Linked DNA regions of Homo sapiens: region 2 is linked to region 1. The links come from fine-mapping of genetic effects on gene expression. A gene starts in region 1. The other region holds a variant in brackets. All regions are shown on one strand. Distances are between the middles of the regions.

Evidence for each region. PIP is the estimated chance that this variant, and not a neighbour inherited with it, causes the effect. A credible set is the group of variants that fine-mapping cannot tell apart.
Region 2: its variant is the best candidate, but not a certain one, in a credible set for the expression of EDDM13 in B cells (Fairfax 2012, PIP 0.54).

What each region holds. Positions count from the first base shown.
Region 1 is chr19:56,264,426-56,280,529 of GRCh38, forward strand. EDDM13 (epididymal protein 13) reads left to right here and starts at 8,323. Exons shown (of 15, transcript NM_001354658.2): 1 at 8,323-8,494; 2 at 11,667-11,684. The coding sequence starts at 8,410. The region is part of intron 2 of ZSCAN5A (zinc finger and SCAN domain containing 5A); the gene reads right to left. It overlaps LOC124900420, which reads left to right and starts at 8,323. Exons shown (of 5, transcript XM_047439799.1): 1 at 8,323-16,104.
Region 2 is chr19:55,296,784-55,311,513 of GRCh38, forward strand. It overlaps BRSK1 (BR serine/threonine kinase 1), which reads left to right. Exons shown (of 19, transcript NM_032430.2): 8 at 4,729-4,875; 9 at 5,354-5,385; 10 at 5,914-6,084; 11 at 6,528-6,625; 12 at 6,884-7,043; 13 at 7,267-7,327; 14 at 7,768-8,137; 15 at 8,538-8,586; 16 at 8,680-8,803; 17 at 9,469-9,667; 18 at 11,856-11,945. It also overlaps a transcript of TMEM150B not described here. Among named protein-coding and RNA genes, the nearest start is that of BRSK1, 20 kb to the left of the region's middle. RefSeq lists a silencer at 6,458-6,752. The variant TACACACACAC/T (reference allele first, on the strand shown) is at 10,964.

The sequences.
Region 1 (16,104 bases):
CTGAGATCTTCCATCTTCCAGGAATGATGCAGTACATTCCAAGAAAGATGTGTTATGGAAGTGACATCAGATCTGAATCCTGAAGTCAAAGTTTCATTTAGTAGAAATCAAGGTAAGATGAGGAAGTGTTGGGAGACTGGACTATGAAGTATGAAGAGTCTGTATCAGAGGCTGGCAAACTATAGTTGACCATTTGTTTTTATAAATAAAGTTCTATTGGAACATAGCTAGCTCCCCTTGCTTATGTATTGTCTCTGGTGGCTTTCTCACTACAGTGGCAAAGTTGAGTAATTGCGACAGGGACCATATGGCTAACAAAGACAAAAATAGTTACTATCTTGCTCTTGACAGAAAAAGTTTTCCTACTCTTGATCTAGGTCACACTAAAGCTTTTAGTCATAAATGCTATCCTAGGGCTGGGCGCGGTGGCTCATGCCTGTAATCCCAGCACTTTGGGAGGCCGAGGCAGGTGGATCACTTGAGGTCAAGAGTTCAAGGCCAGCCTGGCAGACATGGTGAAACCCCGTATCTACTACAAATACAAAAATTAGCCAGGTGTGGTGGCAGGCGCCTGTAATCCCAGCTACTCGGGAGGCTGAGGCAGGAGAACTGCTTGAACCTGGGAGGCGGAGGTTGCAGTGAGCTGAGATCACACCACTGCACTCCAGCCCGGGTGACAGAGTGAGACTCCATCTCAAAAATAAATAAATAAATTAAATAAATGCTTATCCTGTATGTAATGTTGAGCCATGGAAGGATTTGGAGTAGGGGAGACACATGGGCTTATTTCAGAATTACAAAAAAACCATTCTCAGATCCATCCTAGCACAGGGCACTCCCATGATAAAGGCATCAACAACACAATTCCAAACCATCTTCACTTCTCAATCTTTCACCTTGAATACCATTTCAACAAATATTAATTGAGCATCTAGTATGCACCTATACTCTATGTAAGTGGTTAAAGCTGTAAGCAAGCAGTAAGGCTTGAAACTTAAAGCTGGTGGAAAGTAAACTGAGGAAGTGAGCTTTCTCTTTGAGAGATCCAATGGAAGGAAGACTATGTACAGAAGGACAGCAGCCAGAGGTTGCCTTAGAACACAAACAGAGCTGAACTTCTTGAATCAAGCAGGTTTTTTGGGTTCCAGTGGCAGAAACGGACTTTGGCTAGCTTAAAAGAGAAATCACTGGAAGGAACTGGCAAAGGGGTGGAGTTCAAAGGATTAAAGTGAAGGCTGGAGAGTGGGTTTGGGAAAGAGTGAAGCCTGGGAAACCAAGAGATTTCTGTATCATGAGCCACTCAACACTCTCACCTGAAAAGCATTAAATCTGCTTCTTCCACTCTTGCTTTACTCAATTCGAGATTTAAAGTGCCAGGTAAGCAGTCTGATTAGCCTGGCTTAGGACAAAGGTTGGTTGGCTTTAGTGTAAAAATAAGGATCTGGTGCAAGGAGCTTTGAGGGACCCTGCTTGCTTTTCATTATGAGAAAATGGGCACGTGCATTAACTATCCCACCAGGACCACATACAGTGGAGCAGAGGTAATTCTTCCAAAGGAAATCAGGGTATAGAGACTTAGCAGCTAAACAAGTTCACAAATGTCAATCATACCTGTATAGATTCAAATCCTACCTCTTCCAATTATTGGCTTTGTTGACTTTGGGCAAAGTTATCTCATTTGCAAAGAGAAATTATAATACTACCCAGCTCTTAAAATTATGAGCTAATAGATATGAAGTGCTTAGAACCACGTCTGGCACATCATAATCACCCAATTAAGCTTAACTGCTGAGAGTATTATGATTATTACTGCATGCTTGCTAAAAATAGCACCAAGTGATAGAGCCCACGGTGAGATCTAGGCCCTCATTCCAAAGCTCCCGCTCTTTCTGCCAAGCCAAGCTGCCTTTGCAGATCCAACCTCAGTTAAATGAGATGATAATGTGTGTGAAGTTGTTGGGGCAGGTGCCCAAAGAGGATGCTCAATTACTGTCCAAGACTTTCTTCCTCTCTCCCCAAAGAAGTGAGTAGGCTTAGGCTTTGCTTTCTGCTTGGGAGATGCCCCCACTTTTTTTTTTTTTTTTTTTTTTGAGATGGAGTCTCACTCTGTCACTGAGGCTGGAGAGCAGTGGCGCGATCTCGGTGCCTGGTTCAAGCAATTCTTCTGCCTCAGCCTCCCGAGTAGCTAGGACTACAGGCACCTGCCACCATGCCCGGCTAATTTTTTGTAATTTTAGTAGAGACGGGGTTTCACCATGTTACCCAGGATGGTCTCGATCTCCTGACCTCGTGATCCACCTGCCTTGGCCTCCCAAAGTGCTGGGATTACAGGCGTGAGCCACGGTGCCTGGCCGGAGATGCCCATATTTAATAGAGAACCAAGTGGGTGTAAGAGGGCCCAGGGAAAGCAGACAAAGAGGAATGTTCCTGGTTTGTGCTTACTATCATTCTCACGGCGGAGCCCACTCAGGTTTGTTGACAATCTGGCCCCTGCCTACCACTCTAACCTCTCCTCCCTCCACATTCCCATGAGCTTACCCTGCTCCATCCACAATGATCTTCTTTCTGCGTGTCAAATTCCTTCTGCTTTTTTCTGCCTCGGGGTCTTTGCACAAGCTGTTCCCTCTGTCTAAGCTACTCTTACCCCAGATCTTCATTAGGATCTAAACTCAAATGTGACCATCTCAGTGAGGTCTCTCCTGACAACTCTAGCTACGGCAGCATCTCAACCCCATCGGTCTCTAACACATGGCCCTATTTCAGTTTCTTTGCAGCAATGACCAGTACATGAAATTATATATGTGTTTGTCAATATTGTTGTTTGTCTTCCTACACCAGACTATAAACTCCACAGGGTTAGAGAAAGTGCATCCCCAACACCGAGACTGCTTGGTTCACAGAGGGTGCTTTTACACATATGGCTCTGTCAGAACTGTCATAGCAACCCTGTTAGGTATATAGTCTATTAAGGCTGAGAGGCGCTTAGTATCATGATTTAGAGCAGCACTGTCCAATATATGTAGCTATTTAGATTTACCACGTAGCTATTTAGATTTACATGCTTCATAATGAAATAAAATGAAAACTTCATTTCCTTAGTTGCATTAGCGTCACCTCAAGTGCTCAGCAGCCGCACGTGGCTAGTGGCCACCATTCTGGGTAGCACGGATACAGGACATTCCTATCACTGCAGAAAGTTCTACTGGACAGGGCTGGTTTAGAGCATTCACTGCAGATTCATATACTTAGCTTCGAATCCCAGTCCTGCCAATTACTAGTGGTGTGATTCTGAGTGGACCTTATGCTTTTAGATCTCACTTTTTTCATCTATAAAATGACGCTAATAACAGTTCCCATCTCATAGTGTTGTAGGAGTTATTATAGGCAAAGGCTCTTAGAAGAGCATCTGGGATGTAGTCAGTGCTAGAAAAAGTATCGACTGTTGCTATGACACCTCCATTTTTACTCCCTGAGAAACTGAGGTCCAAAGAAAAGAAATCCTTGTCCTAGTGCACACAGCCAGGAGGTGGAGGGAGCTGAGGTTTGATCCCGCACCTCTATGATTTCAGAGCCTGGCTAAATCCGATGACACTTTTCAGGTCCCTTCTGGGAAAAATCCCTGAAACTTCTGACCCATTGCTCCCTTATCTGTTTAGTGGGGGACAGAAGACTCCAAGGGCTCCTCTATCTAGGATAGATGTGAAGGAACTGACTGGAGAGCCAGCCAGAGCCCAGGACATGGGTTGTCTATTCTAGGACCTAGTCAGTGGCTTGGGACTCCTTGGGGGTTGGGAAGCCAGGCTGCCCAGGACACAGAAGCATTGGTGTGGCTGAGCCAGTCATGCCAGCTGCAGCCGAGACCCCTTGTGTGGGCGCTGCCCCTGTGGGTGTAATGGCCCCTGCGGCAGGGACAGAATGCTCATCCCTCCCACCTGCTCAAGCTCTGGGACTGCCCCAGGAACTGTACAGAGGGGTTGAACTATTTCCACTTGTTTCCCTGTAGAAGCCTCAGATGCTGCTGCTGCTGCTGCTGGTTTAATTTTTAAATTTAGTTACTTTTAATACTTTTTAAATTTAGTTACTTTTAATATGCACAGTCCCTATGCTTGTACTGTTTTCTTTGTTTTGTTTTGGTAACATGGGATTTTTAATTGCTATTTTTAGAGCTTTTAACACATTTTTCTACATTTAAAACTTTTTTAATTGAGGTAAAATTCATATGATATAAAATTAACCATTTTAAGTGTACAATTCAGTGGCCTTTAGTGCATTCTCGATGTTGTTCAACCGTCACCCACATCTAGTTTTAAAACACTTTCCTTACCCCTCACCCCATCTCACTAAGCAGCCATTCCTCTTTCCCTCCCCATTCCTAGTCCCCGACAACCACTATCTACTTTCTGTCTCTAAGGATTTACTTGTTCTGGATATTACGTATCAATGGAATCATACACTAGGTAGTCTTTTGTGTCTGGCTGCTTTTACTTTGCATAATATTTTCAAGGTTCACCCATGTTCTAGCATGTATCAGTACTTGATTTCTTTTTACAGTTGAATAATATCCTATTATATGGCTATACCACACTTTACCCATTAATCTATTGATGGACATTCGAATCATTTCCATATTTTGACTCTAGTGAATAGTGTCGCTGTGAACATTCGTGTGTGAATATTTGTGTAATTACCTGTTTTCCGTGCTTTCGGGTACATACCTAGGAGTGGACTTTCAGGGTTATACGGTAGCCCTATATTTAACTTTTTGAGAAACTGCCAAACTATCTTCTACAGGGGCTATACCAATTTACATTTCCACCAGCAATGTATAAGAGCTCCAATTTCTCCACATCCCCTCAATATACTTTAAAACATTCACAATTATATGGCATAATAATATAATAATTAATGATAATAATTGTTGCTATCATTAATAGGAGGAAACCGAGGCTCAGGGATATAGTCAATTGAGCAAGTTTATGCATCTGTGAGGCAGGCAGAATAATTGTCCCTGAAGATACCCACATCTGACTCCTGGAACCTGGGAGTGTGTTACTCTCAGATGTGATAAAAATAAGACTGTTAATCAGCTGACCTTGTGGGGAGATTATCCTGGATTACTGGGGTAGGTCCAATGTAATCACAAAGGATCTTGTAAGTGAAAGAGGGAGGGAAATGGGTAACAGAGGGAGACGGAATGATGAAAACAGAGAATCAGAGCAATGTACGGTGAGAAAGACTTGACCGGCCATCGCTGGCCTGAAAATGGGAGAGGGTTGGAGAGAGATTTGAAGACGCCATGCTGTTGGTTAGGAAGATGAAAGAGGCCGACCAGGAGTCAGGAATGTGGGCAGCCTGTAGAAGCTGCAGAAGGCAAGGAAACAAATTCCTCCTAGAGCCGGCAGAAGGAATGTAGCTTTACCAAGGCTTTTCACTCTATCAACCCATTTCAGACTTCTCAATTCCAGAACTGTATGATAATAAATCTATGTCGTCTTAAGTCACAAATTTTATGGTAATTTGTTATGGTAGCAAGAAGAAACTCAGGCCAGCCGTAGTGTGGTGGGGCAGGGATTGGCATCCACACTGGATTGACTCAATGTCTGTGATTCTAACTGATTGGCTGTCTGTGACTATAACAACCAGGTTTTTTGCCGTCTCCAGGTCCAGCACCACTTCCCTGCTCCACATAGACATGAGTGGATCTCACAAACATCACGCTGGGTGAAAAAAAAAAAAAAGATCCCAGCACTATGGGAGGCCGAGGTGGGTGGATCACGAGGTCAGGAGTTCGAGACCAGCCTGGCCAACATGGTGAAACCCTGTCTCTACTAAAAATACAAAAATTAGCCAGGTGTGGTGGCGCACGCCTGTAATCCCAGCTACTCAGGAGGCTGAGGCAGGAGAATCGTTTGAACCCAGGAGGCGGAGGCTTGCAGTGAGTTGAAATCGTGCCATTGCAATCCAGCCTGGGCGACAGGGTGAGACCCCGTCTCAATAAATAAATAAATAAATACATACATAGCTAGCAAGTTGTGCAAGAAAGATTCAGTGAAACACCATTTAGAATAAATGTAAAAACACACAAAATAATATTACATACGTGTACTGGAGCCAGCTTATGAGGGTCAATTGTTAACGTTTTCAGTTTTCTACATTTAAAACATTTTTAAATTGAGGTAAAATTCCTCATTTTAGCTGCTTGCCTAACATAGCCCAATACTCAAAACTAAATTGTATAAACTTGAACATAAATAAGTTATAATAAAAATAGAGTAATAAGCACTAAAAGCTCATCACTTCCTAGTTGTGGCTCCCCAAACATGGTGGCGGTGGTGGTTGGTGTGGGGTGGGTGGGGCAGGTGCTACTGTGTAATTGATAGGGACCAGAGATGTTGCTAAATATCCCACAAAGCGGAAGACAGCCCCCACCACAAAAACGATCTAGTCCTAAATGTCAGCTGTGCCAATGGTGAGAAATCCTGATCTTCCCTAAAGCATGAGTTCCTCATGAGCAAGGCCAGTATCTGACTCATCTCTGTCCCCAGATCACAGTCTGGCAGAGCAGATAATGCTAAAGAATATTAATGATGTTCTACATCCCAGGCATTTGTTGCATTTAAACCCTAGTGTTATGAGTTAGGGACTGTGATTATATTTGATAAAGCAAAGAAACAGCTGTGCTGGTAATGAGGCTGCTAAGGAAGGATGGAAAATCGAAACGTAGGACTAATCAGAGAAATCCAAATATGCTCCCCCAACCAATCACAATGGCCTCTAATTAACCACTGCCAGCTTCCTTATGCCAACGGCCTCCAACCAGGCACTCTTGAAGCCTTCCCTTTCTTTCACTATAAGCTTTCCCACTACCCTGCCTGCCTTTGAGTCTGTGCCAAACACAAATGGTGTCAGTGGCCTCCCTTATTACAGCAAGCTCTGAATTAATAGCCTTTGCTTGTTTTCATTGGGTGGTCTTTACTTCCGCATAGCACCGGATGTGAAAAGCCTTCCACATGTTTTACGCCTTGTTTCTTCTGCTCATTATAACAAATCCTGTAGTATCACGTTTTCCCGGTGATGAGTTGCCAGGACCATGTGCTCACAAAGGAGGGGAGCTCTGAAATATGGCAAATGGCCAACAAGAACTCTCTCCTCCAGCCTAGTCTGAAGGATCGCTGAGGTATCCCCTAATGTACATGAGATGGTCCAGCTTGTACTAGGGATTGAAACATAGATAGCACCAGAGATGGCGGCAGGAGAGAGTCCCCTGCAAGAGTGGACATCCCTCCACACCTGGAACTCTTTCCTTCCAGGACACTACACACAACCCTCTGTTTCTATCAGGCTTGAAGGAAGTACCATAGAAACCTTCAGAGCTTAGATAGACCAGTGGTCTCTACACTCTGCCTTTATTCCAGGAGTCCAGAGGGATACTGGGTCAAGTTCATATTCCCACTGACAGCTAAAGTTCTTGACTGTCAAAGCAATTTCTAAGAATTACCAGTGGAAACAGTTAGTTCCCTGTGGCTGCTATGAAAAATTATTACAAACTTAATGGCTACAACAGTACAAATTTACTATCATACAGGTGTGATATGATAGTATCACATTAGCCTGGAAATATCATTATCCCAACTTTATAGATCAAGAAAATGAAGCACAGAGTGGTTAAGTAACTTGCTCAGGGTACATAGCTAGTAAGTGCTAGAGGTAAGTATAAACGTAGACATCTTTGGAAAGGAATATACACAAAAATGTAAAAACAATACTTACTTCTGAGTAGAAATACGATAGATGTTGTTTGCTTGCTTTGTTGTTTTTCTGAAATTTACAGTACGTCTAGGACAGGGGTCCACAAACGTTTTCTATAAAGGGCCGGACAGTAAATATTTTAGGCCTTTTGGCCCAGATGGTCTCTGTCACAACTACAAAGCTCAGTCTTGCAGCCTGAAAGCTGCTGTAGACAATACATAGTGAAATGGCATGGCTGTGTTCCAATAACACTTTATTCATGGACACTGAAATTCACATTCTATATAATCTTCATGTCATGAAATATTTTCTTTTGTTTTTTCCCTCCAACCATTAAAAAAGGTAACAATTACTCTTAGCTCATAGGCCCTACAAAAACAGGAGGAGGGCAGGATTTGGCCAGCAGATCATAGGATGACAAGCATCACACTCAGCATGAAACTGTTCTAAAATGTTGCTTTAAGATGAAAAAGCAGATACAGTTCTTTGGTCAGCAGTTGGTGGCGTGGGCACAGGTCTGGAGACCTGCCAGCCTCCAGGCAGGCTAGAGGGCAGGTGTGGGCAGTTAGTTTTGTCCCTGGAGCCTGGGAAGACGGTGGGTGACCAGAGAGTCCTGTCTATCCTAGGAGGAGAACATTCAGCCCAAATCCCAGCCCCATCATGCACAGATCAGAGCCATTTCTGAAAATGTCGCTGCTGATTCTGCTTTTCCTGGGATTGGCAGAAGCCTGTACTCCTCGTGAAGGTAATGCTTCCAGCCATGCCTTGTGTCCTCTATGTATTTTCTTACAACTTGGGAGGCTCTTGTGGGCTGGATTCAGAGAGAAGCTCCTGAAGTCTAACAGACTTCTTCTTGCTTCCCATTTAGACATTCACATTTCCCTTGATGGACACAGTGGGGTGAATGAGTCTAGGTTGCTAGCCCCTGCCCTTGGAGATACACTTGTGTCTGCATCCTGGTTTCTATCACTGATTCTGTGACTTTGGGGAGACACTGCGTCTGCAAACCTTGCTGTCCTCATCTGACCAACGGGGCTCACAAGAATCCCCAGTTCATGGGACTGTTGCATGTCATTGACGAGCTTACGTTGTGCAGTGCCTGGAAGTCAACATTACCATAGTTAGATAATTCTAGTGAGACTCCAGACTTTTGCGACGTAAAGACACCAAAGAGTATATTGGGAAGAGGACTTGGGTCTTGCCATAACTCTGAGTTCCCATTTCCTCATTCGATCCACAAATGTTTATTCCTGGTTCTTTCCACGGGCTTGATGCTGGGAATATAGTGATGAAAATAGTTCTGTCTTCATGGAATTCTCATGCTAAACACACACATTCTAGTGTGGGGATTCGGAGATGGCCTCTCTAGAAAAGTCACATTTGAGGTAAGGAATAGGAGCTGGCCAGCTGAAGAGTTAGGAGAGACTATTCCAGGCAGAGACTTGAATATGCAAAGGTCCTGGGGCAGAAGGCACTGAGTCCCTCCATCAGAGAGAGGCCGGTGTGTCAGGAACGTGGTAGGCAGAAGGAGGGGCATGGTGGTGAGACTGTTACAAGTAAGAAGAGACAGGAGGCAGGAAACAGAACAGACGGGGGCATGTGAGTCACAGGAAAAATGTTGGATGTTATCCTCAGGGAAAAGGAAGCTGTGAAAGGGTTTTCAGCAAAGGAGTGTCATATTTAGGAGCGTGTGTGTGCATGTATGTGTGTTTCTGTGTGTTTAAACAATGTGTCTTGCCCTCAGGAAAGAATGGATTAGGTGGGAATCAGATTAGGGGCAAACACACAAGTTAGAAAACGTTTTGGTCATCAGGGTGAAGATGGGGATAAGTAGAAGGTTACGAGGCACTGAGGAAACAGCTCACAGGATTGAGTGATGGGTCAGATGCTGGTGGTTGGGGATAGAGAAGCATGCAGAAAGGCTCTCTTTATACATACATGTATTTGCAACTGGGGAATTGAGGCTGCCCTTAACTGAGATGAGAAAACTCTGTAGAGGTCGGGCGCGGTGGCTCACACCTGTAATCCCAGCACTTTGGGAAGCCAAGGCAGCTGGATTATTTGAGGTCAGAAGCTCAAGACCAGCCTGGCCAACATGGCGAAACCCCATCTCTACTAAAAATACAAAAATTATCCAGGCATGGTAGTAGGGGCCTGTAATCCCAGCTACTCAGGAAGCTGAGGCAGGAAAATCGCTTGAACTCAGGAGGTGGAGGTTGCAGTGAGCCGAGATCCTGCCATTGCACTCCAGCCTGGGAAACAGAGCAAGACTCTGTTTCAAAAAGAAAAAAAGAAAAAAAAAAAAACTCTGTAGAGGAACACGTTTTTTAAAAAATTTATTTTGAAATTATTTTAGACTTGAGGAAAAGTCACAAAAATTAAGTTTCTGAATATTCTTCACCCAGTTATCTCAGCTGTTAACATCTTACCTAACCATAGCACAATGACTAAAAGCAAGACCCAACACCAGAACAAAACTATTAAAGAAATTACAGACCTCATTCAAATTTTACTAATGTTTCTACTAATAGAAAAACTATTCTATTTGAGGATCCAATCCAGGATCCCACCTTGTATTTTCAATTAAGTTTTTTGTTTTGTTTTGTTTTGTTTTGTTTCAGAAAATCCAGCTCTTGCTCAACCATGTTGCATTTTGTTATCCCATCTCCTTTGGTCTTGTGATTTGTCCTTAGGATGTGTGATTGAACCTCCTCAATCTTTGTCTTTCACGACCCTGAAACATTTGAAGAGCTCTGATCAGTTGTTTTGCAGAATTTCTCTCAATTTGGGTTTGTCTGAAGCTTTCTCATGATTGGATTGAGACTATGCATTTAGGGCAGGAATACCACAGAAGTGGTCTCACACCCTTCCCCGGGAATTATATCAGGGACCACATGATGTTGATGTGTCTTATTACCCATGGTGTAAACTTTAGTCCCTCGGCTAAGGTGGTGTCTGCCAGGTTTCTCCACTGTTAAGTTACTATTTTCCCCCTTTGTAATTAATAAATACGCTGGGGGAGAAATTTTGAGGCTATGCGAATACCCTGTTCTCCTCCAATTTTTGCCCATTAATTTTAGCATCCATCTGTGGATCTTGCTGCAGAAATGATTGCTACAGTGCTTCTCCAATGGTGATTTTCTATTCCCCTTATTCATCTACATATATTCAATGGCCTTTCTCTGTAAGGAAAAGCTGACTTTTCTTCTCCATTTATTTATTCAAGTACTGTATTTATTTATATCAGCGTGAACTCAGGGATATTTATCGTATTGGTTGGGTGCAGTGGCTCAAGCCTTTAATCCCAGCACTTCGGGAGGCCAACGCAAGAGGATCACTTGAGGCCAGGAGTTTGAGACCAGCCTGGGCAACATAGTGAGACTCATCTCTACAAAAAATAGTAAGAATAAATAAAAAGTATTGCATTAACAGATTATTTTTTGATGGATAGGAGTGTGATGACCACAGATTCTTTTTTGAACAGGCTAAGCTTGAAGCACCTGTAAGATGTTTGGGACATCCATAGATAGCAAGTTCTGTGAGAACAGAGTTTGGGGTGTCTAGTGTACTCTTATACCAGAACTTCTCTTCCCAATCAGCCTTGCAAATACCTACAGAGCAGGGGCTGAATCTGATTTATCTGCGTCTCCAACACCAAACATGGGCCAATGCCCAGAGCATGTACCATGTGAATGTTGGTTGGATGGATGATGAACGAATGGACTTATCGATGGATGGATGGGCTGATAGATGGGCCCGAGTAGCTTTATTGATAGCAGTGAGTGGGTCAGCTGATCTCCAGGGACACTTCTATCTCTGGTCTTCTTGGTTATTGCACTGATCTGAGTCTAATGCTAATTTCTCTCTCTGCTCCCTGCTCCCGTTGTGAACTGGCTGGCTGATGCTTTTGTCTCCAGTTGCAACTAAAGAAAAAAGTAAGAACCGTGGAACCCCCAAGTCTGTATTTTCATAGCTACCTCTCCTAAAATTCTTTTCGATCTTGCAACCTCTCTGGCAATTCTGGGGAAGGGTGGCACTTGGATCTGGTGCACAGACCTGCCATGGGGTCTGGACATGACTCAGAAAAGCAAACCTATTGTTTGCTTACAGTGATGCTCACAACTAAAAGAGCAGCCCTCCTTCACTCCTTTGTCTGGGGAAGAGAGGCCTATTCGGAAAATGAAGAGCATTTATCAGGGAAGAGAGACTTCGGGCAGATCTCCATTAGAATAACACCTTGGCTTATGTTTAACACCAGCTGGTGGTTTGCAAACTTCATGGTCTTAGGGCCACTGAACACGCGAAAAAAATTATTAAGGATCTAAAGAGCTCTTTTTTTTTTTTTCCAGTGAGGGTTATTTTTATTTATTTATTTATTTTTGAGACGAGCCTCGCTCTGTCGCCCAGGCTGGAGTGTAGTGGTGCGATCTGGGTTCACTGCAACCTCTGCCTCCTGGGTTCAAGCGATTCTCCTGCCTCAGCCTCCCGAGTAGCTGGGACTACAGGCTGCGCGCCACCATGCCCGGCTAATTTTGTATTTTCAGTATAGACGGGGTTTCACCATGTTGGTCAGGCTGGTCTCGAACTCCTGACCTCAGGTGATCCGCCCACCTCGGCCTCCCAAAGTGCTGGGATTACAGGTGTGAGCCACTGTGCCCGGCCAAAGGTTATCTTTATTGATATTTACCTTATTGTAAATTCAAGGATTTTTAACTTAAAAATATTTATATTTACAAATATTATAAATATTTACAAATACAAATACTTATATTTACAAAAACTATTTCTATTTACAAATAAGCACATAAAAAGATGCTCAACCTCATTAGCCATCAGAAAAATGGAAGCCAAAGCCACAGTGAGGTATCACTTCACACTAACTAACGTGGAGAAATCAGAACCCTCATATGCTGCTGGTGGGAATGTGAAATGATACAGCTGCTTTGGAAAACAGTCTGGCTGTTCCTCAAAATGTTAAACACTGAGTTACTCAGCAATTCCGCTCTAGGTATGTGCCCAAGATAAATGAAACGTAAGTCCACACAAAAACCCATGCACAAATGTTCACAGCAGCACTATTCCTAAGAGCTAGCAAGTGAAGGTAATCCTAGCATGCATCCATTAATGAATGGAGAAACAGAGTGTGGTCTATGCATACAATGGAATATTATTCACCCATAAAAAGAAACAAAGTTCTGATGCATTCAACATCGTGTGTGAGCCTTGAAAACATTATTCTCAGTGAAAGATGCCAGTGATAAAAGATCACATATTACCTGATTCCGTTTACCGTATATGAAATATTCAGGATAGGCAAATCCATAGAGACACAATGGACATTAGTGATTTCCAGGGGGTGAGGGGTGGGGGAATTTAGAGACAATGACTAAGGGGTTCAGGGTTTATTTTGGGGTGATTAAAGCCTCTAAAACTGGTGTAGTGATGGTCGTACAAGTCTGAGTATCCTACAAACCACTGAAATGGGTGAATTGCATGGTATGTGAATTATATCTCAGTAAAGCTATTATTCAAATATCTATTACTGCATTAAAAAAATAAGGATAATAGAGACTCAGAAGGAAGGAGGGTGGCAGGGAGGTGAGGGATGAAAACTACCTTTTGGGTACAATGTACATTACAAAGATGCTGGTGCACTAAAATCCTAGACTTCACCACTGCACAATTCATCCATGTCACCAAAAACCACTTGTACCCCTAAAGCTACTGAAATTAAAAATATTTGAAAAATAAGGATAATAAATATACATACTGACATAAATAAAATGTTTTAGTGAAATGGCTGTTTCCAAACCAAAAAAGTTTAGTAAGAAAGGTATTATTTTACATTTTTGCAAATCTCTTTGATGTCTAGTTTAATAGAAAACAGCTGAATTCTCATTTCTGCTTCAGTCTGTCACAATGTGCTATTTTTTTTTTTTTTAGCTTTATGTGTTTGTTTATTTTGGAGACGTAGTCTTGCTCTGTCGCCCAGGCTGGAATACAGTGGCACGGTCTCGGCTCGCCATGACATCTGCCTCCTGGGTTCAAGCAATTATCTTGCCTCAGCATCCGAAGTAGCCTCCCAAGTAGCTGGGACTATAGGTGCATGCCACCATGCCTGGCTAATTTTTGTATATTTAGGAGAGACAAGGTTTCACCATGTTGGCCAGGCTGGTTTTGAACTCCTGACCTCAAGTGATCTGCCCACCTCGGTCTCCCAAAGTGCTGGGATTACAGGCGTGAGCCGCCCCGCCCAGCCACAATGTGCTATTTTGGTTGAAGCAAATGAAAATCTAATCTCACACAGATAAGGAGTTGGAAAAGGGAAGATCATGCAGACCCGTTTTAGGCAGAGTTCTCCAGAGAGACAGAACCATGAAGATATACATATAGATACATATATAGATAAAGATATTGATAGAGATATTTGAGAACAAATTTCTTAGGGGAATTAGCTCACTCAGTTGTGGGGTCTGCAAGCTGCAGAACCAGGAGGGCCAGTAGTGTGGCTCAGTCCAAGTCTGAAGGCCTCAGAACCAAGGAAGCTGATGGATGGTCTAACTAACTCTCAGTCTGAGGCCAATGGCCTGGGAGCTCAGGGAGCTGTTGGTTCAAGTCCTAGAATCCCAAAAGCTGGAGTACCTGGAGTTCTGACATCCAAAGCCAGGAGAAGGGCATCCCAGCTGCAGAAGGGAGAGCAAGAATTGACCCTTACTCCACCTCTTGGCTTCAGCTGGGCCTCCATCCAACTGGATGGTGCTCACCCACCGTGAGGGTGGATCTTCCCTACCTAGTCTTCCAACTCACACCCCAATATCCTCCAGAAACACCTTCACAGACACACCTGGGGCAGCCCAAACATTCTAATCAAATGCCAAACCACTCAGGCTTCCCTTTCAGCAGAAGACGGATGGACTCAGTGCCTACTGAAGCATTGAGAATAAACGTCTTACTGCTATATGGGTGCCTTAGTCAAGCTGACACCCCAAATCAACCATCACATCCCCTGAAAGGATCTCAGGGACCACCTCCCACCCCCACCAAGTAGTCTTTGGATGATACTTCGAGAATTTCTGCTCCAAGTCACATGGAAGGGAAAAAGATCTCTTTTTTTTCCACCCCTACTAGACTGCAAGACTGTAAGTTCCTAGAGGGCAGGGACTGTACTTTACTCAATCTGTTTATTCCTATAGCCTAGCAAAATTCCTAGCGCTCAGTAGGACTAAATAAATGGAAAGAGCCTTGCAAAATGGAAAGGACTGTGAGAACATAATTTAATGCTATTATTTCAGGTTGAAAGGAGATAAAAGGATCCAATATTAATTAAGCATTTAGCATGTACTGAGAATTTAAAATACGTCATGCAATTTAATTTTCAAAATCGTAAGTGTCCCATATGGGGTCTGAGGTTTCCAAAGCTCTGAATCCTCACACTGGACCATCATCATGAGAATCACATGGGAAACTTTAAAAATATTTAATCCCCACACCAGACTTGGTGAGCTAAAATGCCTGCAGATAACATTTTGGGTTTTTTATACCTAAAAAGCTAGCCTATGTTAGTTCCTTCCTATCTTCAAAAGCTGAACCTTCTAAACCTAAACAAATGCAAACATCTCATGATCCACACTGTTTTTGTTTCAATTTAAAATATTATGCTGTTTTAATTAAAATGTTTTATGTTAAATTATTTTATTAATATTTCAATTAACAAAACAGTATTTACATAAACTTTAATTACATTTAAATTACTAATTAATTATTCAATTTAAAACATCATGTTATTTTCATTTAAAATAAGATTTCCAGGGTTCAGAATTAAAGAAGTTCTCAAGGTTATACTGGAAAAAACTCCTTCCCAACCTATTCACTCATTTCCCTTCCCCGAAAGAATCTGATATTAATTATTTCTTCCAGATCCTTCCAGAGATATTTTATGCAAGTAGAAACAAATGTGTATTTATATATTCAAAGTCCTCTTGTTTCTATTTTTACAAAAAAGACAGCGTATTATACACACTGTTCTGTATGCACCTTACTTTTTTCACCTAATAATACTTCCAGAAGATGACTCTGTGTCAGTTCATAAGGAGCATCCTCAACCTCTTATTTATACGTTTTTGGCTGAATAATATTTCTTGTATGGAAGTCCACAATTTGTTTGACCAGTCACATACTAATGGCCACTCAGGTTGTTTTCAGTAGTTTGCTCTTTTAAATAATCCTTCAAAGAAAAATTCAGCTTACATGAAATTAGACATATAGGATATATATCAATGTAGATCTACATATTTATATCTGTAGGATTATACATGGAAATATGTAGAATTATATCTATATATAGATATATATTTC
Region 2 (14,730 bases), 970 kb before region 1:
CTTGCAGTGAGCCGAGATCATGCCACTGCACTCCAGCCTGGGCGACAGAGCGAGACTCCGTCTCAAAAAAAATGAAAAAAAAATTAGCCAGGCATGGTGGCACCTGCCTGTAGTCCCAGTTACTCAGGAGGCTGAGGTGGGAAGATTGCTTGAGCCCTGGAGGTCAAGGCTGTAGTGAGCCATGATCATGCCACCGAACTCCAGCCTGGATGACAGAGTGACACCTCGTCTCAAAAATAAATAAATAAATAAGTAATAAGTAGAAAAGAAAAAGAATACATAAGTTTTTTTGTTTGTGTGTGTTTGTTTTTGAGACGGATTCTTGCTCTGTCACACATGATGGAGTGTAGTGGCGCCATCTCGGCTCACTGCAACCTCCACCTCCTGGATTCAAGCGATTCTCCTGCCTCAGCCTCCCAAGTAGCAGGGACTACAGGCATGTGCCACCACGCCTGGCTAATTTTTGTATTTTTAGTAGACATGGGGTTTCACCATTTTGTCCAGGCTGGTCTCGAACTTGACCTCCGCCCGCCTCTTCCTCCTGGAGTGCTGGGATTACAGGTGTGAGCCACCACGCCCAGCCATAAGCAGTTTTTTTAATGTCAGGCACTGTTCTGATCATGTTATTTCACACAATTCCCTCAGCAGTCCCAGGGAGGGGAAGTGACTGGCCCACGGGCACGCAGCTGATAAGCCGCAGGCCTGGGGTCAGTCCTTGGTCTCTTAACCACCAGGCTACATAACGGATACTAAGGGCAATGAGGCCAGCTCCAAGCTGGCTTCCTGGGGCTCACCACTCCATGGGGAGAGCAGCCGAGGTGCTCTGGAGACGAGCTAAGAATGTTCAGAACTCAGCCCTTCTTCACTTGGTGGCTAAAAGCCTGGTTCTGGAGCCCATCCAGCCGAGTTCCAATCCCTGCTCCCTCTCCCTGAGCGAGCCAGTCACCCTACCTCAGTGTCCTCATCTGCACCGTGGAAATACACATCATACCTATCATTGTAAGGGTTTTGTTTTCATTTTTATTTTATCTATTTATTTTTTCATTTTGAGACGGAGTTTCGCTCTTGTCGCCCAGGCTGGAGTGCAATGGTGCGATCTTGGCTCACTGAAACCTCCACCTCCCAGGTTCAAGATTCTCCTGCCTCAGCCTCCCAAGTAGCTGGGACTACAGGCACCTGCTACCATGCCTGGCTAATTTTTTTGTATTTTTAGTAGAGATGGGGTTTCTCCATGTTGGCCAGGCTGGTCTCGAACTCCTGACCTCAGGTGATCCACCCGCCTCAGCTTCCCAGAGTGCTGGGATTACAGGCGTGAGCCACTTCCCCCAGCCCACTGTGAGGGTTTAAATAAATGCTGCACGTGAAGCCCCTGGCACAATGCTTGATGATTATTATTAGTAGTTTATTCTTTTTTTTTTGTTTCTTCTTTTTTTTTTTTTTTTTTTTTTTTTTGAGATGAAGTCTTAGTCTTGCTCTGTAGCCCAGGCTGGAGTGCAATGGCTTGATCTTCTTCGCGGCAACCTCCACCTCCTGGGTTCAAGTTATTTCTGGCTAATTTTTGTATTTTTAGTAGAGATGGGGTTTCACCATGTTGGCCAGGCTGGTCTTGAACTCCTGACCTCAAGTGATCTGCCCACCTCAGCCTTCCAAAGTGCTGGGATTACAGGCATGAGCCACCGCACCTGGCCTAGTAGTTTATTCTTGTTCCAATAGTTCCTCATCATTTGCAGATTCCATATTTGCAAATTTGCCTACCTGTCAAAATGTATCTGTAACCCAAAATAGTCCTGGAGGTGCTTTCACAGTCATTGGCAGACATGCCCAGAGCAGGGGAAACCTGAGCCGCCCACCCAAGGTGCAGGTTTCCGGCTGAGGTCAAACAAAGTGACCCTGTTTCAGCTCTCATCCTGTAAACAATCCCCCTTTCACCACCTATTTCGTGTCACGTTTTTCACATTTTTGTGTTGTTGGTGGCAATTTCGTTGTTTAAAATGGCCATGAAGCCAAGTGCTTCTGAAGTGCCGTCTGGTGTTCCTAAGCGCGGGAGGCTGTGATGTCCCTTCTGGAGAAAGCCCCTCTGATGGGCATGCTTTGTTCAGGAATGACTTGTAGTGCTGCTGGCCATGAGTTCCGCGTCAATGACACAGTACATATGAAAGGTGTCTTTAAGCTGGGTGCGGTGGCTCACGCCTGTAATCCCAGCACTTTAGGAGGCTGAGGCGGGCAGATCACGAAGTCAGGAGTTCGAGACCAGCCTGGCCAATCAGGAGGCTGAGGCAGGAGAATCGCTTGAACCCGGGAGGCGGAGGCTGCAGTGAGCCGAGGTCATGCCACTGCACTCCGGGCTACAGTGCTAGACTCCGTCTCAATAAAAAAAGAAAAGTGTCTTTAAACAGAAACACATACAAACAAGGTCATGTAATGACTGGTTGACAAAAATGTGACGAGAGGGTCAAAGGAAGCTTACTAACTATAGTTCCTCCAGTAGCCGTGACTCGTTCACTAGTTGAGAGTTTGCAGTGACTTTATAGAACAGAACTCTCAAGAATAACAAGAATCAACTGTATTGTTGTTATAATTTGTTTTGGTTTTTTTTTTTGTTTTGTTTTTTGTTTTTTTTGAGATGGAGACTTTCTCTGTCACCTAGGATGGAGTGCAGTGGTGTGATCTCGGCTCACTGCAGCCTCCGCCTCCTGGGTTCAAGTAATTCTCCTGCCTCAGCCACCCGAGTAGCTGGGATTACAGGCGCCCGCCACTTTGCCCGGCTAAATTTTGTATTTTTAGTAGAGATGGGGTTTCACCACGTTGGCCAGGCTGGTGTCAAACTACTGAACTCAAGTGATCCTCGCCCCTTGGCCTCCCAAAGTGCTAGGATTACAGGTGTCAGCCACCATGCCCAGCCTGTTGTTATAATATTTAATCCAGACCGTACCCTTCCTGGCAGGATCATTATGTCCGTTTCACAGAGGAGAGGAAACTGAGGCTCTGTGCTTGAGCATCAGGCAACCAGAAGTCAAACCCAGGCTTCCGCACCCTAAGATCGGCATTCAGAGGTGCCTTCTCTGTATCTCCCCATTCTCCGTCCACAGGCCTCAGATACCAGGGGCAACTGGGAGCTTGCAACACCCGGAAAAGCCCTCAAAGGCTCACACCATCACCTCCCATGAGTCTTTGTCCATGGGGGGTCACCTTGGCTCCCCTCCAACCCTTGCCCTGGTGATTGGAAGCATTCCCTCCCGTCCCGTATGATACGTTCGCTTGTTTGTTTCCTGTCCCCTCTGGAATGCAACTTCTCTGCTCATTCCACCACCTTTGCTGATGACTTGAGTGTCGAGTGTGTGTCAGGCAGCGTCCCAGGCCAACTCCAGGAGGGCAGGGATGTGATTTTGTCCCCTGCTTCATGGCTGGTGGCTACGTCAGAATGCAGGATGTGGTGGGGTCTATGGTCAGTGCGTCACAGCAGCCAGCCTGTAACAGTCCTGACTGTGGGCCCAGCACTGTCATGTACTAGGTCAGTTCATTCTGATGCAGTCCGTGAGGTGGGTGCTGTGACGACCCATTGCCATTTTCAGAGCAGTGACTTGCCTGAGGTCATGCAGGTATAAGCCCCAGAGCAAGGATTCAAAGCAAGGCAGGGGACCAGGTGCGGTGGCTCACACCTGTAATCCCAGCACTTTGGGAGGCTGAGGCGGGCAGATCACCTGAGGTCAGGACTTCAAGACCAGCCTGGCCAACGTGGTGAAACCCCATCTCTGCTAAAAATACAAAAATTAGGCTGGGTGTGGTGGCTCACGCCTGTAATCCCAGCACTTTGGGAGGCTGAGGCAGGTGGATCACTTGAGGTTGGGCATTTGAGACCAGCCTGGCCAACATGGTGAAACCCCGTCTCTATTAAAAATAAAAAAATTAGCCGGGCATAGTGGCATATGCCTGTAATCCCAGCTACTCGGGAGGTTGAGGCAGGAGGATCGCTTGAACCTGGGAGAGGCAGAGGTTGCAGTCAGCCAAGAACACCTCATTGCACATCAGCCTGGGCGACAAGAGCGAAACTCCATCTCAAAAAAGAAAGAAAGAAAGAAAAGAAAAGGTGTCAGCAGGGCCCTGCTTCCTCTGGAGGCTCTAGGGAAGGATCCTTCCTTGCCTCTCCTAGCTTCTGGTGTCCTTGGCGTTCCTTCAGTTGCAGCTGTATCACTCCCATCTCTGCCTCCGTCATCACATGACTGTTCTCTGTGCCTGCGTCCTCGTCTCCTCTTATAAGGACACCAGTCATTGATTTAGGGCTCAGCCTCATTCAGGTCTCTGCTCCCATTGCACCTCCTGGGAGAAGCCTCACTCAGTCGCTCGTCATTGTATAGCTATTTGTTTGGAGCTGTGCAAGGGCAGAGGCCTGTTTTGTTCACTGCTGGATCCCTGACCTGTAACGGATGCTCACCTTTTGTTGAATGAGTGAATGAGAGACAACCGTTTCGAAACTGCTGTGGGGGGAAAGCTGTCTAAAAGGAACAGCCTCCACGCTGCAATTCTAGCTTCGTAAGCGGGGCTCCAAGCTGCTCCTTGCCAAGTGCCTGCTGTGCCACGGACGAGCTAGGGGCCTTTGGCAAATTGCTGAGCCTCTCTGTGCCTCAGTTTCCAACCCCTTAAGGTGGAGATCACCGTAGTTCCCCACCTCCAGTGCTTGTGGTGAGGGTGAAATGTGCTAATGAGGGGTCCTGGTTATCTCTTGCCCAGGGGGCTCTGCCCTTTGATGACGACAACCTCCGCCAGCTGCTGGAGAAGGTGAAACGGGGCGTCTTCCACATGCCCCACTTCATTCCTCCAGATTGCCAGAGCCTCCTGAGGGGAATGATCGAAGTGGAGCCCGAAAAAAGGCTCAGTGTGAGTTGAGGGGGGGACCGGCGGAGGGGGGAACAGTGGCCGATGAAGACAGAACCCCCTAGAAAAGTCATGGGGATGGGTTTCCAGAACCTGCTCGTCAGTCCCCAGGGTGACTGGGATCGCCAGCTGAGCCGCAGCCCAAGGTCCAGCACAGCTGCCGCTCCAAACTGGGGAGGGGGCTACGCAAGATTGGGGCGGGGAGCTCCAGGCAGCGGGAGGGCGCAGGAGTAAGGAGGCGAACAGGATGCCACTGCGCATGCGGCAAAGTAATGCGGCCGGTCCGGGGTACACGGAGACCGCGCGTGCGCGGGGCGATGCACTCAGTCGCCACTAGAGGGCGATGTAATATGTCATCCTGCCCCCGGTGGGGTGGGCGGGGAGATGATCAGGGACCCCAAAACCACCCCAGTCTTTCATTGCGCGCCTACATGTGCCTACGACCTCACTTCTGCTTCTCTACGACTCACCACCCTCACAGCTGGAGCAAATTCAGAAACATCCTTGGTACCTGTGAGTATGGGGTAACTGGACTCTTGGGTCCCTGGCGGAAATAGGGGAGGGGCCAAAGCAGTAGAAGCGGCTGGGAGGGGTGGGATGCCAGGGTTCCTGAGAGGCAACGGGCTAGGGACTCGGACTTATGGGTCCTGGGGGAAGAGGACACAGCTAGAGAAGGAGTCTAGGGGTCAGAGGCAGGAGGGGCTAAGCTAGGAGTCCAGGACTCCCAGGTTTGAGGGAAAAAGGGACTGGGGGCCTGGACTCCTGGATCCGAGGGAGGAGGGGCTGGGGGCCTGGACTTCTGGGTCTGAAGAAGGAGGGGCCGGGGGCCTGGACCCCTCGGTCGGAGGGAAAAGGGGCTGGAGGTCTGGACTCCTGGGTCTGAGATGGGGGGCGAGGTCTGGGGCGTCTGGATTCCTGGGTATGAGAGAGAAGGGGCCGGGGCCTAGACTCGGATTTCGGGGTCCGGGATCATTGAGTCTAGAATGAAGAATGCTGAATCTCAGAAGCCCGGTTCCCAATAATGTTTCTCCACTTCCCCAGAGGCGGGAAACACGAGCCAGACCCGTGCCTGGAGCCAGCCCCTGGCCGCCGGGTAGCCATGCGGAGCCTGCCATCCAACGGAGAGCTGGACCCCGACGTCCTAGAGAGCATGGCATCACTGGGCTGCTTCAGGGACCGCGAGAGGCTGCATCGCGAGCTGCGCAGTGAGGAGTAAGACCCCAAGACCCCTGCACCCGTGTACCCACGTGGGGCGAGCTGCAGCAGCTCCCTGCGCACATGCAGAGTGCTGGGCGAGGAACCCTGGCCTCTCATGGGGCATGGTTTGAAGCTCCCGCCTGGGAGTGATGGAACCAGCGGAGAAAACGGCCCAGAAACACGCTGAGAAAGTATTAATAGATGCTGCGACATAGTACTTACATATACATAGTACTTACAAATAGTTCTTGCCTGGATGTTAGGTGTTACAGTGTTATTATAATTGAGTGAAACACAGCTGAGATGTACCCTAAACCAGAGAAACTGACCATACTGATACCTAGAAAAAATGGAACCATGGGCAGAAATACAGGGAGCGGAGGAGACCTCCTCTGAGCATTGATGTTGGACCTCAGCCCTCTGCTACCTCTTTCCACCTTTCCCACCCCCTGCCTTAGGGAGAACCAAGAAAAGATGATATATTATCTGCTTTTGGATCGGAAGGAGCGGTATCCCAGCTGTGAGGACCAGGACCTGCCTCCCCGGAATGATGTTGGTGAGAAGGCAGGGCTAGGGGACCAGACACCTGGGTCTCGAGATTGGAAGAGGCTGGCCACGGGGACCCCAGATTCCCAAGGAAAGAAGGGGCTGCAGGCTCTGAGCTTCCAGCTTTAGACTGCTTGACTTGCTCTTTGACATTTATCAAATCCCCTCTCCACTCTAGGCCTGTTTCCCCATGTGTGCAGTTTCTGAGGCAGTTGTACACAGCTGGGTGAAACCATCTCTTGATTGGGTTGAAACTGTTGTCCCTCAGACCCCCCCCGGAAGCGTGTGGATTCTCCCATGCTGAGCCGTCACGGGAAGCGGCGACCAGAGCGGAAGTCCATGGAAGTCCTGAGCATCACCGATGCCGGGGGTGGTGGCTCCCCTGTACCCACCCGACGGGCCTTGGAGATGGCCCAGCACAGCCAGAGGTGGGAGCCCCTGTCCCTCCAGGAGGATCCACAATCCCTGGGTCTAGGAGTTCAAGATTCTAACCCCAGCTCTACCTCAAATGTGCTGTGTCCTTGGGACAATTCACCTCCCCTCTCTGGGCCTCATTTCCTCACCTGGAAGGACTGTAGAAGTGAGGGAACATCTGTGGTTTTTGAAACCCTCCCATCTGATTTTTTTTTTTTAAATCTATCCTGGAAACAGATCCCGTAGCGTCAGTGGAGCCTCCACGGGTCTGTCCTCCAGCCCTCTAAGCAGCCCAAGGGTAAGGCCAGGTCCCCAGTGGGATTTAAGAAGGAGAAAGGGGTGGAGACATGGAGCAAAGATTGAGTAGCAGAAACTACAATTCCTGTGCAGTCTTGAGACTTGCTTCTTTGTCCCTGGAGGGCCAAAGACCCAAGGCCTCCAAAGTATTTTGGTCCATTGGCCATTTCTACCTCCTTAGGATTGCATGCCTGAAGAGATTTTACAAAAGTTAGTTGAGTGCCTGCTGTGTACTAGTATCTGCACCGGCTGGGTTTTCAGCCCACAGCATGATAGAAAGTCTTTGCTATCCTTGCTCTGGGGCCTGGGAAGGAGGATACTTGGACTACAAGTTGCAGCATGCACCGGGCCAGCGTCCGTGAGTGTGCGTGTGAGTGGGGCTCCTAGAGCCTCCTGGGAGTTGTAGTCCACTCGCTTATCTCAGTCTCCTGTCCTCTGCAGAGTCCGGTCTTTTCCTTTTCACCGGAGCCGGGGGCTGGAGATGAGGCTCGAGGCGGGGGCTCCCCGACTTCCAAAACGCAGACGCTGCCTTCTCGGGGCCCCAGGGGTGGGGGCGCCGGGGAGCAGCCCCCGCCCCCCAGTGCCCGCTCCACACCCCTGCCCGGCCCCCCAGGCTCCCCGCGCTCCTCTGGCGGGACCCCCTTGCACTCGCCTCTGCACACGCCCCGGGCCAGTCCCACCGGGACCCCGGGGACAACACCACCCCCCAGCCCCGGCGGTGGCGTCGGGGGAGCCGCCTGGAGGAGTCGTCTCAACTCCATCCGCAACAGCTTCCTGGGCTCCCCTCGCTTTCACCGGCGCAAGATGCAGGGTATGGGGGCATGAACTGCCGAGTCCTAATGTGGGGAGAGGTTGGGGCTAAAAATCTGGTTCCAGGGATGTCCGTCTGGCGTGTCTAGAGAGGAAGGGACTGGGGGCCTGGATTCCCACGTTCTAGAGAAGAGGGGGTTTGAAGCAGAGGTGCACCTGTTGGGGAGAGAGGTGGGGCCTCTAGCTCTGGAGGAGGACCCCGATTGAAGGGCACGCGCCTTTGGGGCTCTGGATTACCTCCCATTGGCCCGTGGTTTGTGAGCCCCGCCCAGGAGGGATGGCTTGGCCGAGGCTGCAACCCAAGGCTCTGGAACCCTGGGAGGGGGCGAGTGCAGGCCTGTGTGCTGGCAACTGGGATGATGCACAGGTGTTGACCACGTTCTCTGCCTTCCCCCTACCAGTCCCTACCGCTGAGGAGATGTCCAGCTTGACGCCAGAGTCCTCCCCGGAGTGAGTCTCACAGGGAAGGAAAGAGTGGGGATGCAGGGGATTCATGCCCTCGGCGCCTTCCTAACCCTCCTCCAACCACCCCCTCCCACTCAGGCTGGCAAAACGCTCCTGGTTCGGGAACTTCATCTCCTTGGACAAAGAAGAACAAATATTCCTCGTGCTAAAGGACAAACCTCTCAGCAGCATCAAAGCAGACATCGTCCATGCCTTTCTGTCGGTGAGGGGCCTGGGTCCCCATCGAGCCTGGCCCCCGCAGAACTACAAGTCCCAGCAGCCCCTGGGGCTAACCACCTTAGCATAGGCCTGGCTTCCTCCTGGGGCTCATGGGATTTGTAGTTTTATGGCCAGAGTTGGTTAGAAGTCGGTAGGCAGGAAAGATTTATCGTGGCCAGAGGCCTGGAATTGGGGAAATAGGATCCTGAATTGCAATGTCCTCAAGGATTGGTGAGTTCCCATTCCCCTACTGCGAGGTTTGAAACTAGCCGAAGAAACTTCCCAGGCAATGTTAAGGCTGCCCCATTGCTGGTCTGTGGTTTTATGCCTACGGGTGGATGGGACTTAGAGTTTCTGTGACAGATATGGCTATGGGAAGCATTTGTAAAGGGAGCAAGCAGTGTTTCATGTGGTCTTGGAGTCTGAGGCTGTCACCTAGCTATCAGAGTCCTCATGATGTTAGGGGGATGTCCAACCATTCCTCCCTTACTCGCTGATAGGATAGAGAAAGCTACAAGTCCTTGCAGGCAGTGGGGCCTCCCAATGCATTTCCTGTCCTTCTTTCCCTCCAGTGGCTCATGGGACTCGTAGTTCCTTGGCCAGAGCTGGTCGTGGGGCTGGGTATCCATTTCCTGGGCTCACCCCTTCCTGTGTTCCTACCTCGCTCAGATCCCCAGCCTGAGTCACAGTGTGCTGTCACAGACCAGCTTCAGGGCCGAGTACAAGGCCAGTGGCGGCCCCTCCGTCTTCCAAAAGCCCGTCCGCTTCCAGGTGGACATCAGCTCCTCTGAGGGTCCAGAGCCCTCCCCGCGACGGGACGGCAGCGGAGGTGGTGGCATCTACTCCGTCACCTTCACTCTCATCTCGGGTGAGTCTCTTGGCTAGGCTGCCTGCAGCCCAGTGCTGGGACTGTTCACGACAGCTGAGACAGTGTAGGGGCCCAGGAGTGCAGCAGCAGGAGGAGGAAATGGTGTTCAGCTGGTGCCGACTCTCTGTGCTCCTCCTGCCCACACAGACCGCCCCACAAGCCCATCCTCTATTTCCCCACTCTCATCAGCATTTCCCTGGCATTTACAGTGTAAATAATGAATGCATTATCTCCTTGAAGCTTCCAAGCAGCCTACTGAGGTGTTAGTAATCACCCATTTTACGGAGGAGAAAACTGAGTCATAGGGAGGTCAATGGACTTGGCCAGAGTCACACAATACACTGTCGCAGAGCTGCAGCCCAACCCAGGCCTCCCAACTTCAGAGGAGAGAGCCCAGCTCTTCCTATTACTTTAAGATGGTAGAGCCAAAGGGTGAAGACACAGCACACTGCTGTCTAATATCAGTCTGCCCAGAGCAGACATTACCAATTGATGGCAGTGCTTATTCCTGCTAAGCTCAGTGGCAGCCTCAGGAACTTGAACTCCAGGCAGCCATGACCAGTCGAGGCTTGGCACAAGAAAGGAAAACCACTAAAATACCTTGCTTCCAGTTCTGCTTTCTGTTTGGTCCCTCCATCCTGATAGTGAGCATTTGGATAGGGAGGGATATCGCCGATCTCTTTGTCACCAATATTAATATGTCACAGGTGGGAGAGGGGCTTGCCCCAAAGATTTCTAAACCAAACGGCTGTGGAACTGTGGGTGTTCCGTCACCAAAACCAATTATGACTCTTTATTTTTCTGTCCCCCTTAAAGACTAACATGCAGGCTGGGCGCGGTGGCTCACGCCTGTAATCCCAGCACTTTGGGAGGCTGAGACGAGCAGGTCAGAAGTTCAAGACCAGCCTGGCCAACATGGTGAAACCTGTCTCTACTAAAAATACCAAAATAAGCCTCGCGTGGTGGTGGGCTCCTGTAATCCCAGCTACTCAGGAGGCTGAGGCAGGAGAATCGCTTGAACTCAGGAGGCAGAGGTTGCAGTGAGCCAAGATTGTGCCACTGCACTCCAGCCTGAGCGACAGAGCGAGACTCTGTCTCAAAAAAAAAAAAAAAAAAGGCTAATATGCAGACCTTTCTCAATTTTAAGACTTTTTCTGAGGCCAGGCATGATGGCTGACTCCTGTAATCCCAGCACTTTGGGAAGCCGAGGTGGGAGGATTGCTTGAGCCCAGGAGTTTGAGACCAGCCTGAGCAACATAATGGACCTCATCTCTACAAAACAAACAAAAAAATTTA[TACACACACAC/T]ACACACACACACACACACACACACACACACAATTTAAAAAAAAAAAAAAAGCCCAGCACGGTGGCATGCACCTGTAGTCCCAGCTACTCCAGAGTCTGACGTGGGAGGATCACCTGATTCCAGGAGGTTGAGGCTGCAGTGAGCCGTGATCGCGCCACTGCACTCCAGCCTGAGTGACAGAATGAGACCTTGTCTCAAAAGAAAAAAGAAAAAGAAAAGACTTTCTCCGATTTCTTTTTCTTTTTTTTTGTTGTTGTTGTTGTTTGGTTTTTTTTTTTTTTGAGACAGAGTCTTGCTCTGTCGTCCAGGCTGGAGTGCAATGGCGTGATCTGGGCTCACTGCAACCTCTGCCTCCTGGGTTCGAGAGATTCTCTTGTCTTAGCCTCCCGAGTAGCTGGGATTACAGGCATGCGTCACCATGCCCAGCTAATTTTTGTATTTTTAGTAAAGACAGGGTTTCGCCATGTTGGCCAGGCTGGTCTCGAACTCCTGAGCAACCTCAAGTGATCTGCCCACATCGGCATTCCAGAGTGTTGGGATTACAGGCATGAGCCCCTGTACCTGGCTCCAACTTATTTTTCTTACATTTCTGGTCCTTCATGGCCTCCGCTAGAAACTAACAGCAAGCAATAGTATCTATTTGAATAGAAACCAACACCTGTTATTTGAAGTTGAAGGTATGTGAGTTTGACCGTGATCCTTAAATAGCAGCACAGACCCATTTGCAAACCGTGGATTGATGTGGCCCCAGCGGAGCAGGGGAGACGGAGATGCAGGGGGGGTGTTGTGTGCTTGGTGGAGGGACTGGGTTCTGCAGGCTGGGACGGCCTTCCCGGTCCTGGACCCCCAGTCAGTGTTTTTCTGCCCGCCTGTGCCTCTAGGTCCCAGCCGTCGGTTCAAGCGAGTGGTGGAGACCATCCAGGCACAGCTCCTGAGCACTCATGACCAGCCCTCCGTGCAGGCCCTGGCAGGTGGGTGGTGGGGCCGTGGGTGGTGGGGGGCGTGGGTGGCGGGGGCCGTGGGTGGCGGGGGGCGTGGGTGGCGGGGGGCGTGGGTGGCGGGGGGCGTGGGTGGCGGGGGCGGTGGGTGGCGGGCAGAGGTCCAGCATGAGCAGGTGCTCTGGGGTTTGGTTTGCAGAGGACGCCCAGCTGGTGGGCTCCTTCACCATTGTCGTAGCTGAGGTCTTATCTGCAGAGTTGTGAGCAGGTTCCCCGAGAGGCTGGGGCCTGAGGAGGGTCTCCTTAGCAACCTGAGGACTGGCTCCCAGGAGTCCCTAAGAAGATGACAGGCTCTGTGTTGGGGGTCAGGGAACATCCTGCCAACAGAGGTTCTGGACCTCTGTCCAGGAGGACGGTGACCCACCGTCCTGGTTTGCTTGGGACTGAAGGGTGTTTCTGGGATGCAGGGCTTTGAGTCTAAACCCAGGACAAATTGGTCACCATCTTTGCAGGTCTCACAAGTCACCTCACCCTGGGGCTAGGGCCTAATGGTCCCTAGCAACCAGAATTCTAAGCTGAGTTCATGGGAATGTGCAAGATCTTGCTCTGGGGAATCCGGCCTTCCCGGGCTCCCAGTCCTGGTCATCAAAGACTCAAATTCTCTAGCAATCAGGAGAGCAGAGGGTTTGTTGCAAAGGTGTCTTAGTTCGTTCAGGCTACTATAAGAAAATACCATACACTGGGCAACTTACAAATAACAGAAATTTATTGCTGACAATTCTGGAGGCTGGGAAGTCCAAGATCAAGCTGCCAGCAGCGTTGGTGCCTGGTGAGAGCTGCTTCCTGGGTCACAGACAGCACGTTGGTGCTGTGTCTTCACATGGCAGAAGGGGCAAGGGAACTCTCTGGGGCCTCTTTCCTAAGGACACTAATCCCATTCATGAAGGCCCCACCCTCATGACCTCATCACCTCCTAACATAACCTCCTAATACCATCACCTTGGGATTGGGTTTCAGCACATGAATTTGGGAGGATGCAGTGTTCAGTAGAGAGCATAAGGGGCACTCGCCCAAGCAACCAGAGGTAGCCAGAATTCTCAAGGGAAGAGAGCGCCTGCCCTGGAAATCAGCCCTCATTCCTGAGACACGGGGTCACAGGGGACACAGTGAAACAGGGTACTGGGCCCCATTGCAGGGCACGTGGACAGCCGTCTGCTCTGAGGGGAGTCAGGCAGCATCAGCCTCACAGGACCCATGCCCCTTCCTGGACCCCTGGACCCCGTTGAAAGGAAACGGCCCAGCGTTGAGGCCAGGAGCCAGGGCAGCTTTGGCCTTGTCACCAGAAACTCTGAGTCCCAGGGTCAGGTCTTTTGCTCTGGAGCCGTGGTTCTCAACTAGGGGAGCTGGTTTCACCCCGTGTTTGTTTTCTATGGCCGCCGTCAACAAATGACACAGCCTTGGTGGCTGAAACAACACAAGTGATTTTCGTACAGTCCTGGAGGTCAGAAGTCCCACATGGTCTCTGCAGGCTAACAGGGTGCCTGGAGGGCTGCACCTGGAGGCTCTCTGGCAGAGACTGTTTCCTTGTGTGTTCCAGTTCCTAGGCGCTCTGGTTAAGGCCCGTTCCTCCATCTTCAAAGCCAGTGACGCCATATATCCCTCTGACTGACCTTAGCTGGGAAAAGGTGACTCAGTGGGACCTGCACAGATACTCCAAGATAATCCCCCAACTCGTGGTCCCTCACCTTCCCCACAGCACAGGATCTCTTCTGCTGCATCAAGAAACATAGTCACAAGTTCTCGGTATTTGCATGTGGACATCTTTGGAGGGGGCCGTTATTCAGCCTAGCCCAACCCCCTAGGGACATTTAGTAATGTCTGGAGACATTTTTCCTCCCCTCAACTGGGGAAAACAGGGGGATGCCAATGGCCTCTTGTAGGTGGAGGCCAGGGATGCTGTAAAACACCCTACAATTCACAGAACAGCCCCCCACGACAGCTGGGTCCCAAATGGCAGTCGTGCTGAGGTGCAGAAACCCTCTTTTCTCATGGTTGCTAGGGGCAACCGGAAAGCAAATTAGGTCCACTGGACCCCGTTGCCGAGGAAAGCTGGCCTCAGCAACCAGGGGTCTCAAAACGGGCACACCCTGGAAGATGTAGGACTAACAGGCACCCTGGGGGGCTCAGCCACCATCTCATAAAGGAGAATGGGGTGGGGGGTGCAGGCCTCCGAGTCACCGTGGTTGCTATGACAAGCCCCCCAGTTTTTGTTTTTGTTTTTTTGAGACAGAATCTCCCTCTGTCGCTCAGGCTGGAGTGCAGTGGCGCGATCTCAGCTCACTGCAACTTCCACCTCCCGGGTTTCAAATGATTCTCCCGCCTCAGCCTGTCGAGTAGCTGGGATTACAGGTGCGTGCCACCACACCCGGCTAATTTTTGTATTTTTAGTAGAGACGGGGTTTCACCATGTTGGCCAGGCTGGTCTCAAACTCCTGACCTCAAGTGATCTGCCTGCCTCAGCCTCCCAAAATGCTGGGATTACAGGCATGAGCCACTGCGCCCGGCCCACTCAGTTTCTCTTAAAAGAAAAACGAGGTCTCCGCCACGGGACCTCAGGTAACATCCTAGGCCCCATGGAAATTGCTGGAGACCACCCAGCAACCAGTGTTTCCACCTCAGTCCCCAAGAGGAGGTGGCCTCAGGACCCAGGAGACAGTGACCTGAGTCAGGCTGGCCCAGCATGAGGGGCCTGAGACCCCCCCGACTCCACCAGTAGGCTCCCTTGAGCCCAGTTCCATGGAACATTTCTCCCTAACAA